3 linked regions of the Homo sapiens genome follow. The protein of the gene in region 2 interacts with the protein of the main gene of each other region in a biochemical or structural test. Each region holds a gene or a part of one and is shown on either strand. Other genes may lie near its edges.

Region 1 (7,035 bases), on a different chromosome or scaffold from region 2:
AGATGGACAACTGGGAAATGGTGGAACACGTGACCAGCTGATGCCGCTTCCAGTGAAAGTATCATCAAGTGAAGAACTCAAACTTGGTAAATTCTATAGGAACATAGGGTTTGGCATAGTATCTTTTTAGAGAAAATGATTTTTCTAACTAGGTAATGTGGCAAAGAAAGCAACATATGACTATGAAGGGAGTTTCTCTAAATACTGGTTTCATTTTTTACTGGTAAACAATTCAAGAGTCAGTCTAATTTACTGAGGCAAAATAATTATTCTATATTACTCCTTCAGATTAGGATTAATGTGAATTTAAATGATAAAATAGACAATGGATTCAGAGGCATATGCAGCTCTCATTCCAGTTTGCAAGAGACTTACTAATTCTTGTAATTAGTTGTTTACTAATTCTTGTAATTGGCTGGTTGCCCTGGTTAAGTTGATCCACAGTCATATAAAACCCTCAGAATAATGAGCAATCAACGTATACCTGGCACTGAACTGTGCTCAGCACTTACTTGTGTTATCTCACCAATCCTTGTAACAGTTCCTGGGAGGTGTATTCTGTCACTCCTCTTTTACTGGAGGATAAAGAGACTTGGAGAGAAAAGGGTTAGCCACTTAATCATGGCCAGTAAGTGGTTTGTCTGGAGTTGAACCCGTGCCCTTTATGACCTCAGAGTCTGAGCTCTGAAACACTCCATTGTAGAAGCACCTTGGAGCATTTCTGTTACTTGTTTCTGAAAGCTTAGTGGTGACCTCAAGTAACAAAATCTACTCATTTCTTGTAGGAAAACGAACAGAGTTATTTCCTTAAGCAGCATGTATTATCTTTGATTCCTTATAACAGTTACATGGGCTTAAAGTACTTATATTCTTTATAGCCAGCAGTCATTGCTTAAATCTTGAAAACATGGTTTTTAGTAATGGGAGTTGAATTAAACTGATAACATTTAGCTAATCAAATATTTGCATTTTATATATAAATATTTGTATTATGTATATTAAACTGATGTCACATGTCCACCTTGTGAATTACCTATGTTTGCCAACTAGACTTTACTCCAAAGGATATGTATTTCAGCTGCTTAATTGGCAGAAAATGTACTAAGTTTTGTCTATTAAGAAGAAAAGATGACTACGTTTAAGAAGAATCTGAAGTTATTTAAATTGAACATGCATGTTTGTGCCAAATGACTTTCTAAAACTCTTACTCTTTGTGCATCCTTTCAGAAAGCCATACCTCAGAAAAGGAGTTAATAATGATTGCTGGAGGGAATCAAAGCATTTTGCTCTGGATAAAGAAAGAGGTAAAAATAGATCTCCAGGTGTTCTATAACCTGGTATTTTAAGCAAAACTAAGGGTTCTAGTATCCCAGTTTGGTGAATTCCAAAATCATCAGTTTACCAGGCTGACTTTTTGGGGGATAGCTGGACATTACTGATCCTTTATTGTCTAAACTACATCAGTATTTTCCCACAAAAATCAGCAGATTTTTCTCTGGTGAATGTCTAATCAGTGTGATTTCCATAGGCTATACTTACCTTTTGGGGGCTACTTGCCAATGATGTTTGGTCAGTATCCTTGCAAACAACAGAGTGACAGATTCTAAAAATGACTTTGCAGGCCAGTACTAAGAAAGACACCAAGGTTCATGGGCTTGCAAATAAAAAGTCCATAACTTCCCTGCCCTACTTCACCAAGTGAAATCGAGTTCCTCACACTTCTGCACACAGCTCTTTCAGGATCTTCCCTTCCCTTCAAGGCTGTCTGATGTTCAGTTTAATTTGATTGTATTTGTATAAAGTGCTGAGTGTTGAGTCCTCAAAGAAATTTACTTTCAGTCTAAGCCCCCTTGGACAAGAAAGTGGCAACCAGGCAAATGATTGATTACTTATTTGTTGAGTATCACTTTGTGATTGTCCCAGGGCTGTATTACACATATTTAAAAGTCAGTTTTACTCTCTAGAGTGTACCTAAAAGTTGGGTGCCTATCTCTGATGTGTCTAAATTATTGTATTTTACTTTCCTGTTTGTTTACAGAATTCATATGTTAATCTGAAGAGGACAATTCCTACTCTGAATGAAGGGACTGTAAAGAGATGGATTGCTGATGTGGAGACTAAACGGTGGCAGAGCACAAAAAGGTACACCCCACAGTCTGACTCTCTGCTTATATATCACTCTCAAGTATCATTTCCCAAACTGGTTCTGCACAGCAATATGAGATTTTGTAGTCAGGGTTTTCCAGAGAAACAAACTCATAGGATATGTGTGTATTTCTGTCTCTATCTTTATCTCTATCATGTCTGTCTGTCCATCTATGTATCTATGGAGGGGAGAGAGAGAGATTATTTTAAGGAATTGGCTTATGAGATTGTAGGGGCTGGCAAGTCCAAAATCTGTAGGGCAGGCCAGCAGGCTGGAGACTTGGGGAGGAGTTGATGTTGCAGCTCAAGTCTGAAGGCAATCTAAAAGCAGAATTTCCTCTTCTTTGGGTGACCTCAGCCTTTTCTCTTAAGGCCTTCAACTGGATGAGGCTCACTCACATTATGGAAGGTCCTTTCTTTTTATTCACTTGTTCAAGTGCTTTACTCAGTTTACCATTTTAAATGTTAATCTCATCTAAAAAAATACTTTCATAGAAACATCCAGAATAATATTTGACCAAATATCTTGGTACCATGGCCTAGCCAAGTTGACATATAAAACTAACCCATCACAACTAGCATGTAAGCGCCATGAGGACAGCTTTCTTTACTGTAGGGCTTCTCCAGGCCTCTGTTTATGTATATTGTGACTCTCTGGCCAGAAAATAGAGTCTATAGTGTTTCCCAGTCCCATTTGATCCTGGAACCATTAGTTTGTGTACCTGTTATTCTTAGCTGAACAATTTGTACCATTCTTCTCTAAACCATAGAACTCCTATAGGTTTACAGAACTCCTACCTATTCTTACAAACATCATCTTTTAGAAATATTTTTAGGTATGGCTTTCTAATTCTGGAAAATGATTGTACAAAGTAGTTGCACAAAATAGTTGCATCATAATTTGCAGAGCATAAATAATTAAGAACTGTACAACTACTTCTAAGATGAAACTGAGCATACTCCTTCCCCCATTTAATTTCTGGTAATTTATTTCTACTTCAGTGGAATAGAAATAAATAGGACTTGCATAGTTGGTGGGGTGGGAGTATTTTGTTTGTTCAAGAAAGTTCTGACCATAAATCAAGCCTTTCCTCTTTATTTGAGGCTTCTCTGAGTATGTATAAACTTTTTTATTTCCCATGTTTGCCACTGAAATTTTGAGATTTACCAAACAGAATGGACTTTTAGAAGCCAAGCCAAGGTAATATGCATACAGATAGGAGACAAATGGAGAGGTTGGAAGGATAGTTATAAGATGTGGTATTTATCATGTCTCATGCTGTAAAGAAAGAGGCTGTATGTATGTATACCATGTGATTTGGTTTAACCAGTGTCTTATTACTAATATAGGGAAATCCAAGAGATATTTTCATCTCCTGCTTGTCTAACTGGAAGTTTTTTAAGGAAAAGGTAATATATGTAATAAATTAATTGTATTAAATTGTATTAAGAGTACCGTGAAAGAGGATAAAAAAATGATTGGAGAGTAAAATAGCTGTGTGTTCATCCCTTTTTAAAAATTTTTTTTAACAAAAGTAAATATATGTTTGCTGTAGAAAATGTCAAAAATACACACAATAAAAAGAAAGTGAAAATCTTCCATAATCCATCACTTAAGAGTAATAGCTAGCACTTACGTATATGATTATATTTTTTCATGCAAATGTATTCTTTTAAAAAAAATGAGATCATACTGGTTCTTTGTTTTTTTCTTTTTTTTTTTGAGACAGGGTCTTGCCCTGTCGTTGCCCATGCTTTAATGCAGTTCTGTGATCTTGGCTCATTGTAACCTCTGCCTCCTAGGCTCAAGCAGTCCTCCCACCTCAGCCTGAGTAGCTGGGGCTTCAGACACATGGCACTACACCCAGCTAATTTTTGTATTTTTTTGTAGAGCCAGAGTTTTACCATGTTGGCCAGGCTGGTCTCGAACTCCTGAGCTCAGGCAATCTACCAGCCTTGGCCTCCCCAAGTGCTGGGATTTCAGGTGTAAGCCACCATGCCCAGCTGGATCATATTGTTTATACATTGTTTTCTACCTAATATTTGCCCATTTTACATTTTATTCTATCTTTTTTGGTAATTTTTTTTTTTTTGAGACAAGGTCTCACTCCATCACCCAGGCTGGAGTTACAGCATCTTGGTTCTTGGGCTCAAGCATCATCAAACTCTTGGGCTCAAGCAAAACTCCCACCTTAGCCTTCCACGTAGCTGGGACTACAGGCACGTGCCACCACCTCCTGCTAATTTTTTAGCTTTTGTAAAGACAGCAGCTTTGCTATGTTGCCCAGGCTGGTCTTGAACTCCTGGCCTCAAGCAGTCCTCCCACCTCAGCCTCCTGGTGTTGGGATTATAGGTGTGAGCTACCGCACCCAGCCGGTAACATAATTTAATGGCTGCATGACCTTCCATTAGAAGGTCTTCCATGAGAAGATACTTAAACATTTCATTAATAACTTTATATTGAAGTACTAAGAAATTATTGGTCAGAAGCCCTCTCTTTTGGTTCCCACTTTTCAGTCCATTTAACGGGAAGAAATGGATGTATTTTTTAGAAATGGGAAAAATGTTTATCTTTTTTCTGTCTTCCTTCCTTCCTTCCTGTGGTCAGTCCTTTCTTCCTTCCTTCCTTCCTTCGAAAAACCTTTATCTTTTTTCTATGGCCCGCCCTTCTTCCCTCCCTTCTTTCCTCCCTCCCTCCCTCCCTCCTTCCCTTCCTTCTTTCTTTTCTTTTTTTCTTTCTTTCTTTTTCTGAGGCAGGATCTTGCTCTGTCACCCAGGCTGGAGTACAGTGGCATGTTCACAACTCACTGCAGCCTTGATCTCTCAAGCTCAAGCGATTATCCTGTCTCAGCCTCCCTCTGTGGCTATTTTTTTTAAACTGGGAAATATTAATTTTTTTAATCTATTACAGATAAGACAGCATCTGAGTTAAAGTCTTATGGTATATACAGTTAAAGCAGCCTTGATATTTTTTGGTATTTTAGAAAAAATCATGTTTACTACATTGCATTTGGATTTAGACAATTTATTATAGTTACACACTTGAGAAAAAAGGTAATTTTGTTGAAATGGGGCAAGCTCTAGAAGAAACTTTGCATCTAGGGAGATAATCTAACAAAATACTTAATTTATCTTTCTTCTACAGAAGAACTACAGAAATGATGCCTGTTTATTTGGACTTAAATAAAGCAAGAAACATCTTCAAGGAGTTAACCCAAAAGGACTGGATTACTAACATGGTATCTTCAGATTGTTATGTGGAGAAAGAAAATACACCAGAATATTTCTTAAAAGAACTCAAAATTTCAGAAGAAATGTTTTGTGTTAAGGGATTCTCCGAGACCTTGTAGCATATTCAGATTAAGTTAAACTCAGATAACATTTAGGAGTTTGCCCTTTTAGGGTGAAATAGTTGGCATAGTAGTCACACAGGTTACAGATATTCTAAATAGTGTGTCTGTACACAAACACACATACACATATATGCATACACATTCGTAGAGGGAAGTTTTTCAACTCAGGGCTTTAGGAAGATGATTAAGGATTTGTTGAGATTGGTACACTAGAATAAGAACATTTTATATGCAAAGCATAAATGTAGAAATGAGAACATTTTTTCTGATATGAATATCCCTCTCACCAGGGACTGCCTGGATTCTTTTTTTTTTTTTTTTTCCATTCTACTTTTCTGTAGATTCTAGAATGTTCTTGTTCCTTATGGGATGATTGTTTCCTGTTTCAGCACTGTTACTGCTATCTTTAGGTTTTCTTTTTGCAGGTGCTCCAAACATGCTTCCTTTATTTTTATTTTTATTTTTTTGGAAACGGAGTCTCGCTTTGTTGCCCAGGCTGGAGTCCAGTGGTGCGATCTCGGCTTACTGCATGCTTCGTTTATTAATTTAGTTTTTCTTAATGTAGTTTTTATTATTTCCCTATTTTATTTTACTGGTTGATATGGGGATACTACTTTCTGTTCTACTCTCCATTTTTTTCTCTCTGGGTCGCACTGTAGTTCCTTCTTTCTTTCTCTCTCCTTCCCTCCTCCCCTCCTTCCTCCCTCTAGCCTCACCCCATTTTTTAATCTCTCTCTGTGTTCATATCCCTCTTCTCTTTCCCTCTCAATCTTTGATCTCTCACCCTTCCTCCTTTCAGCTCCCGCACTTGCTCTGTTTGCCACAACTAGCATTTTCTATTTCAGCTGCAAGTTTTCTCATTCGCTCCTTTCTTTCAAGGAAAGATGGAAAGTTCAGTTCTCTTAACTTTGGCAGAACCACAGCCCCACTGGGGGTCCGAGGTGAAATGGTTCCCTAATTATGTACCTTTATTGGGACCCTACAACACTTAGTGCTGCCTGTATCAACAACCCAGAAACTACTCAGTGGACTATTTCATCAACATTTGTTAGAGCTCATTTTCTTTTGTTTTCTAAAATCCTCCTGTGGGGGCCAGTTTAACTTTCTTTCTGTAAGATTCTGAGTCATTGCTACTAAATACAACCATGGAAAGATTACCAAAAATAGAAGCCCTTTTGTGCGTCTGTGAAGGGAAGGGATTGGATCAGTTCATCATTAAGGGCTCCTTCTGTTTACTAATTATACCTTGATTGTGCCACAAAAAGAACATATGGTATGTAAATGAAATAATCATAGGGCATCCTTGACCTCCATTGTTTCAGAATAAGATGATTGGATTAGAAGACCTGTAATGTTTCTTTCTATCTTGAGGTTCTGCGATACGGACTCTCAGACCTTTGGCATGTGTTCATTTATTCAGCAAACATTTGAATACTTGCTGTGTGCTGGGCACTGTAATGATGACTCGATGAAGAATAAAAGAGACATACTCCCTGTGCTTTAGAAGCTCATGGTGTAGTAAGGGAGACAGATACAT
Region 2 (3,821 bases):
CGAAGGGTGAGTCAGGGCTGCGCTGGCTTCTGCCAGTTTCATCACCCAGAACTGCGGCCCAACCAGGAGAGGTGACAGTGCCCAGGGTCACCAGGCAGGCAGGCTTTGCAGGCTCCAGGGTGGCCGCAGAGCCCCTTTACCAAGACCCCTCCAGCCCCACGTGGAGGGGAGCCTGAGGCCTGGAAGGAGAAGGACCACTTGCCCAAACTGTTCATAGGCAAGGCAGGGGGCCTGGGTTCTGGCTAGTCTTTGTGTTTCCTACTCTGTGACCTTTGCGCCTCTCCCAGCCTGTGTCTTGGTCTACAACACGGGGACAGCCATCACCCACCAGGTCCCTGGGCAGAAGTGAGGAGGTGTCAGCTGCCCCCTGCAGTGCTTGGTCTTCATGCATTGAGCACCTGAGTTGTATATAGCTGCACAGATGGGTAAACTGAGACCCTGAGCGGGAATAACAACCATATTGGGTCAGAGGGCACCCAACACCAGACACGCACAAGTGATCATAGCAGGAACCAGTTTATTGGTTGAGGTGGTGGGGAACAGGGGGGTTGGAGGCACACCATGAGGAGCGAGGGCTCAGCTCTCCCCAGGGCCCTGGAAATCCATGCCCTCCACCAAGTCCTGCAGGTAGGCCTTGTACTGGTCGGAGGTGAGGGAGAGTGGGTGGCTGTTGGAAATGTGCAGGTCCACAGTATTCTCCAGGGAGGAGGCACCCCCTACCCGGGCCATTTCTACCAAGGCCCTGAGGCACGTGGGCACAACCTGCAGGGGAAGTGGGGACAGGAGTCAGGGAAAACACCCAGCCACTGTCCACCAAGGTAGGAGTCAGGGCTTGGAGGACTACAACTCCCTGCAGCCCCTGCTGTAACCTAGGATGAACCATAGGCCTAGGGCTGCTGGGAGTTGTAGTTTTACACACACACACACACACACACACACACACACACACACACACACCCCCTGCTGTAACTGAACCATAGGCCTAGGGCTGCTGGGAGTTGTAGTTTTACACACACACACAAACACACACACACACACACGTCAGGGCTGAGCAGTCTGTGATCTTGACTCCTGGGAGCCACAGCCATGGCCTCACAATGGCAGCTAAAACTTGAGTCCACCAGCTTCTACATGGTTTAGAGCAGGGGTCCCCAACCCCCCTACGGCTTGTTAGGGACCAGGTTGCACAGCAGGATGTGAGCAGCGGGTGGGGGAATATTACTGCCTGAGCTCTGCCTTCTGTGAGATCAGCGGCAGCATTAGATTCTCAGAGGAGCACAAACTCTATCGAACTGCGCACGTGAGGGATCGGCTGCTCCTTAAGAGAATCTAATGCCTGATGATCTGCAGTGGAGCAGTTTCATCCCGAAACCACACCTCCCTGTCCGTGGAAATATTATCTTCCATGAGACTGGTCCCTGGTGCCAAATAGTTTGGGGGCCACTGGTTTAGAGAGTTCAAAACAGGTTCTGCAGGTGAGGCCATGGGAAGGAGCTCCCGGGGATGAAAAACTGGTTATTGCAGAGATCTTGGAAGTTGCAGTTTTTTAGAGGGCCCTCTGGGAGTTGGAGTTCCTGGGAGCAACCTCTTCCCTCTGTAAGGCCACCCCTTTCAGCCCCAGGGACTCAGGTCTGCAGGCACCTTGACCATCACGAGCCTCTTGGTCCACGGCTGGTCCTGGGGCCATGACTCCCCCACACAGAACCAGAGGGCATAGCGTGGTGAGCGTCCGCTTCCTTCCGTGAAGGTAATCAGATCTGGGGGCCCAGGAGCCTAGTCAGGGATGAGAAGAGGACCCTCTACCCACCCTTCCCCGTAAACTTGAATGATAACCCCCACCACCTCCCCTGACCTAAGGCCCTCTGCTGCCTCGACCAGGGGACTGCTTGTTTGGGGAAAGTCCCCTCCTTCCCTCCCTCCCTCCCTCCCATCAGGGTGGGGTTGTTGGAAGGCCACACCCCCAAGCCCCCAAGCCTCAGCATTCATAACAGGCCCAGAGTAGGGGGCCCATGCTCCCAAGGATGCTCAGTGAATCTGGAGAAGCTGGTTGGCATTCAGTCCTGTCTGAGGCTGCATTGTCCAATTGCAGCCATTAGTCATGTAAGGTTATTTCAGTTTAAATTGTAACCAATTAAAACGAATCACGTCCTGGTTGCACTCGCCTCACCTGAGTGCTTGGCCCCTGTGGCTAGTGGCTGCTGCACCGGACAGTGCAGGTGACTGTCATTTCCATCATGGCAGAAAGTGCCACTGCACAGCGAAACCCTAAGGGATGTAGCTTTCCTGCTATTGGTCTGTTCACCATCATTAGTTACGATGATGATGACAGTGGCAGCTAATTCCCTGAGCAGGCTCTGTGTACTGGGCCTGTGTCTCACCCCAGCGCTGGCAGGCAGGTAGAGAGAGGAGACCATCCTTGGATTCCACGGGCTCAGGGCAAAGTCCTTTGCCTCGGTTATACAGCGGGCCAAGGGCAGCCAGCGTCTGAATTCAGTCCTAATCATGAGTTCTTTTTTTTTTGTTGTTCGAGATGGAGTCTTACTCTGTCACCAGGCTAGAGTGCAGTGGTGCGATCTCAGCTCACTGCAATCTCCGCCTCCTGGGTTCAAGCAATTCTCCTGCCTCAGCCTCCCGAGTAGCTGGGATTACAGGCACGTGCCACCACGCCCGACTATTTTTTTGTATCTTTAGTAGAGATGGGGTTTCACTATGTTGACCAGGCTGGTCTCGAACTCCTGAACTTGTCATCTGCCCACCTCAGCCTCCCAAAGTGCTGGGACTACAGGCGTGAGCCACCGTGCCCGGCCAATCCTGAGTTGTTAACCACTGTGCAGGCTGCTTTGTACTGGCCAGGTCGAAGCCCCTGTCTCACTCACCTACAATGAAGGGCCCCAGGTCAAACACGCCTCCTTCCTTGTCCTTGGGGACCTCGCCATCAGGCCCATGCCCGCTGTTGGGGAGCAGCTCCTCGCTCACTGCCCAGTATGTGTGGCAGTGCCCCAGCCGCTGGGCCCAGAGCCACTGCCCGGCCCGCCAGAGAGCCAGTCCCCCACCCAGGCAGCTCAGCACATGCCTCACGTAGCTCATCACTCCCCTGTCTGTCAGGGACATGCCAGGGTCTGGCAGTGTGACTGGCCATCCAGGCAGCGTCCTGTCTCCCACTTCGGACCCCACCAGCCGCAGGCCCTCCGGGCAGGAGATGGTCTGCTGGAAGACTTGGCGGCCCCGGTAGAAGGCTGTCACCTCGAACTCCCACTCTGAGCAGCGGCAGCAGCGGCATGAAGGGGAGAGGGGTTGAGAATCAGGGGCTGCCGCCCAGACCTCAGCCCTCCCAGCCTGCAGCTGACACTCACCTTCCCCCGGCACCAACAGCCGCTTCAGTGGGTTCTCAGAGGGCCCCAGGTTTGGGAAGGGAGTGGGATTGTCCAAGCTGGGGCTCCGCAGGGGCTGAGGGCAGGGCTCAGGGGCTACAGCCAGGCTTGGGGGTCCCGGATCTGGGAGTGGGGCCAACACCATGTTACCCAGTAACTCATCCAGAATGTCTTCCTGGAGGGAAACAAAAAAAGAGAATCAGGCATTTCCATATCCTTTTCTGGAGACTTCATATGGACCAGGTCTGTTCTCAGCAACGCAGGGAGGTCAGGCTTGAGCTCTGCCTTCAAGGGGCTTCCAGCCTGGGGACAGAGCCAGCCATGGCATCAACAGCCAAACAAACACTAATGAACGCCAGGTGCTACCATTCCAACCCAAGGATCTGGCTCTATGCAGGTAAGACCTGGGCAAAGCAGGCTGGGTAGAATTTCAGAGGGGATGCTCCCCCA
Region 3 (7,035 bases), on a different chromosome or scaffold from region 2:
ACTTAATGCTTTGAATCCTTATCTGTAGAAGGCAAAGCTTGGCCAAAGTACGCTCCACCCCTCAGCCTTTGAATCTGTGCTCCCACAAAGAATGAACCAATTGAATTATCCTTATTAAGGTGCTGGGTCTGCCGCCAGCCGGCTTCATTCAGACAGCCTCCAGGAGACAGACATTCTTTGGTAAGTCCTAGTGTGTCTCATGAGGTGTCACAGGCCTTGAAGACACCTGCCATACCTTAAGGCTCATTTCATTCTTTTCCCCTGGCCACATACCAAAGGGCTGTGATTAAGAGCGTCTTTCAGAGAAGTAAAAGATAATGAGCAGGGGAATCGGATAGCATGTTGGAGATGGGATGGGGGAGTCACAGTGGGAACAGGGTCTTGACAGTAAAAATGCTCAGGAGGAGGAGAATAGCCAGGTCCCTGCTCAGAAGAGCTATCAGCAAATATTGCAACCTCAAAATATTGTAACTGCATCCTCTCCCGGAAGTTCTCCCCACTCTCCCAAGCAACTTGCCCTCTCACACTATGCACTGTGCAGGGAAATCAAAGAGCAGAAGCTTCATTTCAAGAATAGTGGAAAATTCCATTGCTGCATTATTGTTTCCCCTGCTAAAATTCTTCTTATCCTCCAGACCTTACTGTGCCAGGTTCATTGCCAATGGTTAAGCAAGGACTTAGTTTTGCTTTGATGTGTTGTGGCTGGTAGTTATGTACGTGTCATCTGTCTGATTGTTGGGAGTAAACTTCGTCCACAGTCCAGGCTGCCCCTCTCCTCATAATTCCCAGAATTCTGGATTTTTATGATCCTCCGCCTTTCTATTTAAGTGGTCCTATACAAGATGGAAGGATGGGTCGACAAGGTATCAACTGAGGCAGGGCTTTCAACGTACACGCACCAAAAAGATGCAGCAAATCTCATACCTAAAATCCCTTTAAAGAACCACAGGAAGCTAAGAGTCCCAGATAGAAACAGCCAGAGTGGGCTGAAGGTCAGCAAAGTGGAGCAAAGCCAAATAGGAGGAAAAGGGAACTCCACAGACAGGGACTCCATGCTACCTGGAGTGACATTTCTGACCAGCCATTGTTGTCAGGTCGGTTCATGGACTCCCTCTGACCACACAATCCCAGACATTCCTGGCCCTCCCACCTCTGATTTTCAACTGCGAGCAGCTTCTGAATATGTATGCAAATCACACAATTTCTGTTCACAACTTGCTCCATCAGTAGGAAGGTCCAAAACACTCTCGTGGGGAGATCCTTTAGGATAAAAGGGTTTGGGTCATGCTGGTCAGTATGAACTGATTCAGCCATGTGGGGGTTATAATTTGTCTATTTCTGTACCATTTGGTAAAAAGCCACAGCCCTGAGCCCTGCTACAACTGCAGGCTCCCTGGCCCTCTCCCAGGACTCCTTAAACTCTCCATGATCCAAAAACCTAAAAGCTGAAGGCCAAGCAAGCAGAAGTTCTCTATGATCCTACTCCAGTGCCAGGGCTGTCTTCCATTCTGATTAGTTGGTTCCATGCCATTCATTCCAATGGTTAATTCTTTTAAACATCATCTGGTAATCATGGCTGGAGCTTTGGAGACCTTGCCTCTGAGCAGGGCAGTGTCCTGGTTGCCATAGAATGGTGACCACACATTAACCGAGCAATCTGGCGGTAGGCAAAGGATCTGGCTGGCTCCCCAGTATAATTTACACATGGAGCACGCGAACTGGTCTTTGGATCCCAAATATACTTTTTCTACCCACAACTTAATAATTCAGCCTTTTGGATTAGGCAGAGTCACTGTGGGAAGACATATCTTGAGCCTGTAACTCTGAACTCATGAGATAGCATCTAGGTGGGGACTAGCAGGAAGGGAACACAGAGCACCTTCGTAGGAACGTACTAAAGACATAGGCATGTCTACTTCATAGAGTTCCTTATTTCTACCATCAGCACTAGGCTTTAGGATGGTGATGGGGTTTTGGCAGCAATATCCATGTCTTCACTTCCTGTGAAAGAAGGAATGTTGCTGAGAACTGCATCTTCGTCAGTGTTTTCCAAACTCTATCCAAATGTAAGAATCATTTGGGGACTTGGCAAAAAAGCGAATTCCTGTGATTCTCTTCTATAAGCTATGCTATGGGAAGATTGCGATAGGACCCAGGATTCGACGTTTTTAATGACGGCTCCTTGTGATTCTTATGACAAAATAAGTTTGGGAAACACGGTTGTCCACTTCAGTTCTTGACTGTTCCTTTCCCAGGTTTGGGCTGCCAACTGCTCCTCTGCCCCGGGCGACTCCTAGTTAATACCCCTAATTAGCAGCAAAATGGTGTTGTCTCAAGGCTGGTAAGATATTATACTTAGGTGGCCCAGGTGGCTCAGGTAGTAAGAAGGGGATGGAGGGAATGACTGATGAGGGCCAGAGTGAGAAAAAACAATTACATGATCATGACTTTAGGAGCTTTGTTATTGATAAGACTGTGAGCTTGATTCTTCTTTGGTCATTGGTAAAAAGGACAATGTAGGATGAAGTGGGAGGGCTAAGGCCATGATCCAAAAGGAAATGGATATTTGTACAATTTCACAGGACCTTGTCACTTAACATTTACTTTACCATTGTCATTATTATCATTAGCATTATTATTTTATCTTGGTTGGTGTTAAGCCATTTAAATTATTTCTTTGATTTGGAGAGGAGGCAGTGGGAAGGAAGTTCAGAACATACTGAATAGTAGGAAAAAATCAATTTTTAAAGTAAATTGCATTCCTTGGGTAATCTACACATGGTTATTTCAAACTGAGTGTGTGTGTGTGTGTTTATTGGGGTGTGGCATGAGGCGAGTGTGTAAGACAGAGAGCAAAAGAGCTACAGAGGCCACTCTAAGCAGCAGCATCATGTGACCACTAAAGATTTACACCTGAAACTAAATACAGAATGTTCTATCTCTACAGATTCCAAAGGTTTTCCTAAAAATATAACCAACAACAGGGGGAAAAAAAGATACCCAGATTCCAAGGACCTCACGATGGTGCTGAAAACCTATGACACCAGCTTCCTGGACTTTCTCAGAAGGTGTTTGGTGTGAGTTTGTTGGGACATCTCTGCTTCTGGGTTTCCTCTTAAATGCTGTACTTTGACACACGTTTGCTGGTGAAAGACTAAGGCTGGGAGATAGTTATAAAAGTAACAAGAAATGCTAACAATAGAGCTTTAAAGTCTACAAATTGCTTCCACATCTGTTGTTTCATCAGACATCTCTCCCTACTGTGTGGTTGTCAGGGCAGATGATTTGCTCTGTTTTGCACGTATGGAGGTTGGGGTTCAAAGAGATTAAGTGACCTGCCCTGGAATACACAGCGTATGGTAGAGTTTGTCATCTTCCTGGCCTCAAACTGCCTGGCAGTGAGATTGTTTGCCAGTCCTAAATGTCTTCTGCTCTGTGAGCTGAAGCCAACCCCCTGACTGCTTGTTGTAATGATTTGCATACACATCCAGTGTAAACTGGTTTCAGGGCCTGTCCCCCTCCCCCTAGGATTTAGTACCCAAATCGTCTTATATTAGGGAATTAGGGGGAAGGTGAGCTGTAAACCATTTATTATGTACAACTTTTTATAATCTATATGCATATTTTGAATCTTAGAAATTAGATCTGTACTTAAGTCGTAGTACCCAGCACAGCACCCAGTTTAAAAGGTGTTTAGAAAACGTTAGCTATTCTTATTATTTTACGACTATTAAAGAGGTAAATCTATCTCCACAGAGTGGCAAGTAGATTATCCATGTGATACTTGGCAAGTCATCACTTTTTTCTGGGCCTCAGTGTTCTTTCCTATAAAATACGGTATTCCTAAGCTCCCTTCCAGTTCTATCAGTCCTATAATTTAGTATTTTTAGAAGACCATATCATTACAGTCTCTTATTCTTCCAGTTGGATGGAGTGATGTTATCAAAATACTCTTCTGGCATCTGTGCTCTCTGGAATTTCAGTACTAGCTCAGAGGGTGAACCATGAGGTAATGATGAAAGTATTCCCATCGTAGGGGGTCATGCTATTCACTCATCAGAATAATCAAGGTAGGGAAGGATCCTGTACCCCATCTTTACCCCTACCTTAACAAATGACAGAAACCAACTGCTGAGACAGATGGGTTATCCAGAAACCTCAACCATCCAGAACACAGCTCAGCACCAAGGAAGGCATTATTTTCTTCTTTAGTGCAAAGGACTGATTACTCATAACTTGCAAGAGGCAGTCAGGCTGATGGGGACTGTTATCTTATATATATATATTGCTAATTAGAAAATCTTTGAGACTAAAAGTTTTGAGCCAAGTTCAATAGGCATAAATGTAAAGCCCCGTGTCTAGACTTTGTAGGCGAACTCCAGAAGTCCAGGAAAGGAGAGATGTTGTTTAACAGCAATTCATTTGACACAGAAATGAGAGTTTGAGCTGTTTTAGGACCTTAATGAGTCTAGAATGTTAATACTGTCTCCCTGCAGTTATAGAAGCTATTCCCACCATGATGGACACCAGTTAGACAACTGCTAAAATATCCTTATTTCAGAAGGTGGTCAGATGGTGAAAACCATATCATATGATCATTAGTTAGTAGCGATGTAAATATTTTCAGATGGTTGAAGGACTGAACCATAAAATTAGGATAGTTATTTTGTGTGATGGTAATGTGTTGATGAATTAGGACCTGGGTAAAAGTTACTGGGAAGCAAACCAGTTTTGGCACAATAAAAGTCAAGAACTTTTAAAGAATCGGAGTTTTTTCAGAATTGGAATAGATGGTTCTGTGAGTTAGTATCTTGTCACTGAAATTACTCAAGAATTGCAGGGTGATTCCATGATGGTAGTTCAGTCAATGTATTCTGCTACTGTATTACAAGTTTGATTGGATTATATCCAAGTCCCCTTGCAAATCTTAATATTCTAGAATTCTGTAAATCTCCTTGCAATATTTTTGAAGCCCCAATTCTGTAGTCTGGAAATTGAAATCTTTGTTTTAATATTCTTAGCTTACCAAACCCTAAATCCTATTGATTAAGCTTTTGTAAAATAATATTTCTTATAAGGAAATTTCTAGGAATGCTGGAAGACTTGGACTGTAATATATATTCCCTGGCTTGTTATACACATCTTCTAAAAAGATTATTTCCATTAGTTGTTTCCAGGTACTTTTAAGTTATATGCCATAATCTCTGTTCTATGATTATATATCTTTGAGATATCAACATAGCTTAAATAAAAATCTTTATTGGGTTTTAAAAATGTTTTAATATATTAAAAGGAAATAAAACAATAACCCATGTGGGGCTTTGTTGGGGTGCAGATGGGAACCTTCTCTTCGCATGACCCCGGACCAGGCCCTCAAGCATGCTTGGATTCATCAGTCTCGGAACCTCAAGCCACAGCCCAGGCCCCAGACCCTGAGGAAATCCAATTCCTTTTTCCCCTCTGAGACAAGGAAGGACAAGGTTCAAGGCTGTCATCACTCGAGCAGAAAAGGTACAGCCTGTCAAATAACCAGTCCTAGTCCCACAGTCCGGGAATTAATATTCTAGAATTCTGTAAATCTCCTTGTGATATTTTTGAAGCCCCAGTTCTGTAGTCTGGAAATTAAAATCTTTGTTTTTAATATTCTGTTTAATATGCTGTTTAAGCATTTCTGAAGGATTTGCATGTCAATTTCTCTAACCTCAACCTGGGATAATTCTTGTGGCTACATCATGACTAGCCTGCCATTTCTTACCTTTGGGATTTTCCTTTTCAGGGAAATTTGGCATTAGCCTGGATCTTTTTTGCCCCTTATTAGGATTTTCCATTTTTCTCCTATAATCAATTTCCTTTCTCCTCCTCCCTTTTTCATTAACTGCGTCCACCCCTTTATGCCCTATAATTACCTTTAGAATTTCTGTCAGTGCCAGATTATGGCATTATGCAAATTTTTATATGCAATATAGCCTAGTGGTTAGGTACATGGTCACAAGAGTCAGGTTACCTGGGGATTAAATTCTGGTTCTACCACTTATCAGGTGTGGACTTAACCTCTCTGTAGCTCAGTATCTCCATTTATGAGAATGAGAATAAAGCCTGTTCTCCAGGGTCGCTGAAATGATCAGACGAATTAGTAAATGTACAGTGCTTAGAATAATGCCCGGCACATTGGAGGTGCTTTACAAATGAACTGTTTTTATATCATCACGGTCATCGTTTCCACTAAGTGATGTACAACCTAAAGGACAATTAACATATAATCCACATTTGAATCTTGTTCCCTTCTGTCTTCTCTCTCCTTTAGCAGATGAGATCACCAAAGAGACTACAGAGAAAACAAAAGATAGCCCCACGAAGCATGTTCAGCATTCAGGTGATCAGCAGGACTGTCTCCAGCACGGAGCTGACACTGTTCAGCTGCCTCAACTGGTAGACGCTCCCAAGAAGTCAGAGGCAGCTGTCGGGGCGGAGGTGTCCATGACCTCCCCAGGACAGAGCAAAAACTTCTCCCTCAAGAACACAAACGTTTTACCCCCTATTGTATGACCTTTGCTGAGGGTATGTCCTGCTCCTTTCCACCAGTGATTTGTATTAAGACAGCACTTATATTGTACAATACTTCAGACTGTTTTTTTTAAATACATAAAACTTTATGTTAAAAAACTCTATTAACATGGCCAATTGGCATGACTCCTCTTATGAGGGATGGGGGAGGATGTCCTTGCACTTAAACTCATTCCATATGCATCTGTGTGTGTAGAGGGGGCGGGTAGTTTTGAACTCTCAGTGTTACAGCATCATTAATGGAACTCCAAACAAAAGAAATTTTTTTTCTTCTTGCCCATGACTGCCAACCTATGTCAGGATTTTTGTTTGAAAATGATAGAAGCTGAATTCAAAAGCAGTTTAAACAACGGAAGACACTTATTGACTTACATAATTGGGGCATCAGAAAAGGTAGATGTAGTTTCAGGCGCAGCAGGATCCAGGAATTCAAATGAGGTTGTAGGGCTCAGACTCCCTCTTCATCTATTA

The links. Proteins that work in one complex are often made in the same cells at the same time.
Region 1: of the proteins of IRF3 (region 2) and HERC5, one has a biochemical effect on the other in vitro, tested with the Homo sapiens proteins (one study listed by BioGRID).
Region 3: the proteins of IRF3 (region 2) and DYRK4 form a complex in vitro, tested with the Homo sapiens proteins (one study listed by BioGRID).

What each region holds. Positions count from the first base shown.
Region 1 is NC_000004.12:88,467,119-88,474,153, forward strand, and holds part of HERC5 (E3 ISG15--protein ligase HERC5), read left to right. Parts: coding exon 1-86; intron 87-512; exon of another isoform or gene 513-588; intron 589-1,227; coding exon 1,228-1,304; intron 1,305-2,038; coding exon 2,039-2,142; intron 2,143-3,495; coding exon 3,496-3,555; intron 3,556-5,290; coding exon 5,291-5,384; intron 5,385-7,035.
Region 2 is NC_000019.10:49,659,072-49,662,892, forward strand, and holds the end of IRF3 (interferon regulatory factor 3), read right to left. Parts: intron 3,547-3,821; coding exon 3,354-3,546; intron 3,258-3,353; coding exon 2,877-3,257; exon of another isoform or gene 2,379-2,876; intron 1,774-2,378; coding exon of another isoform or gene 1,758-1,773; coding exon 1,642-1,757; intron 763-1,641; coding exon 577-762; coding exon of another isoform or gene 518-576; 3' UTR 501-517; downstream 1-500.
Region 3 is NC_000012.12:4,607,208-4,614,242, forward strand, and holds the end of DYRK4 (dual specificity tyrosine-phosphorylation-regulated kinase 4), read left to right. Parts: intron 1-119; coding exon 120-180; intron 181-2,947; coding exon 2,948-3,077; intron 3,078-5,335; coding exon 5,336-5,511; intron 5,512-6,304; coding exon of another isoform or gene 6,305-6,307; coding exon 6,308-6,546; 3' UTR 6,547-6,668; downstream 6,669-7,035. UniProt on the Homo sapiens protein: Possible non-essential role in spermiogenesis.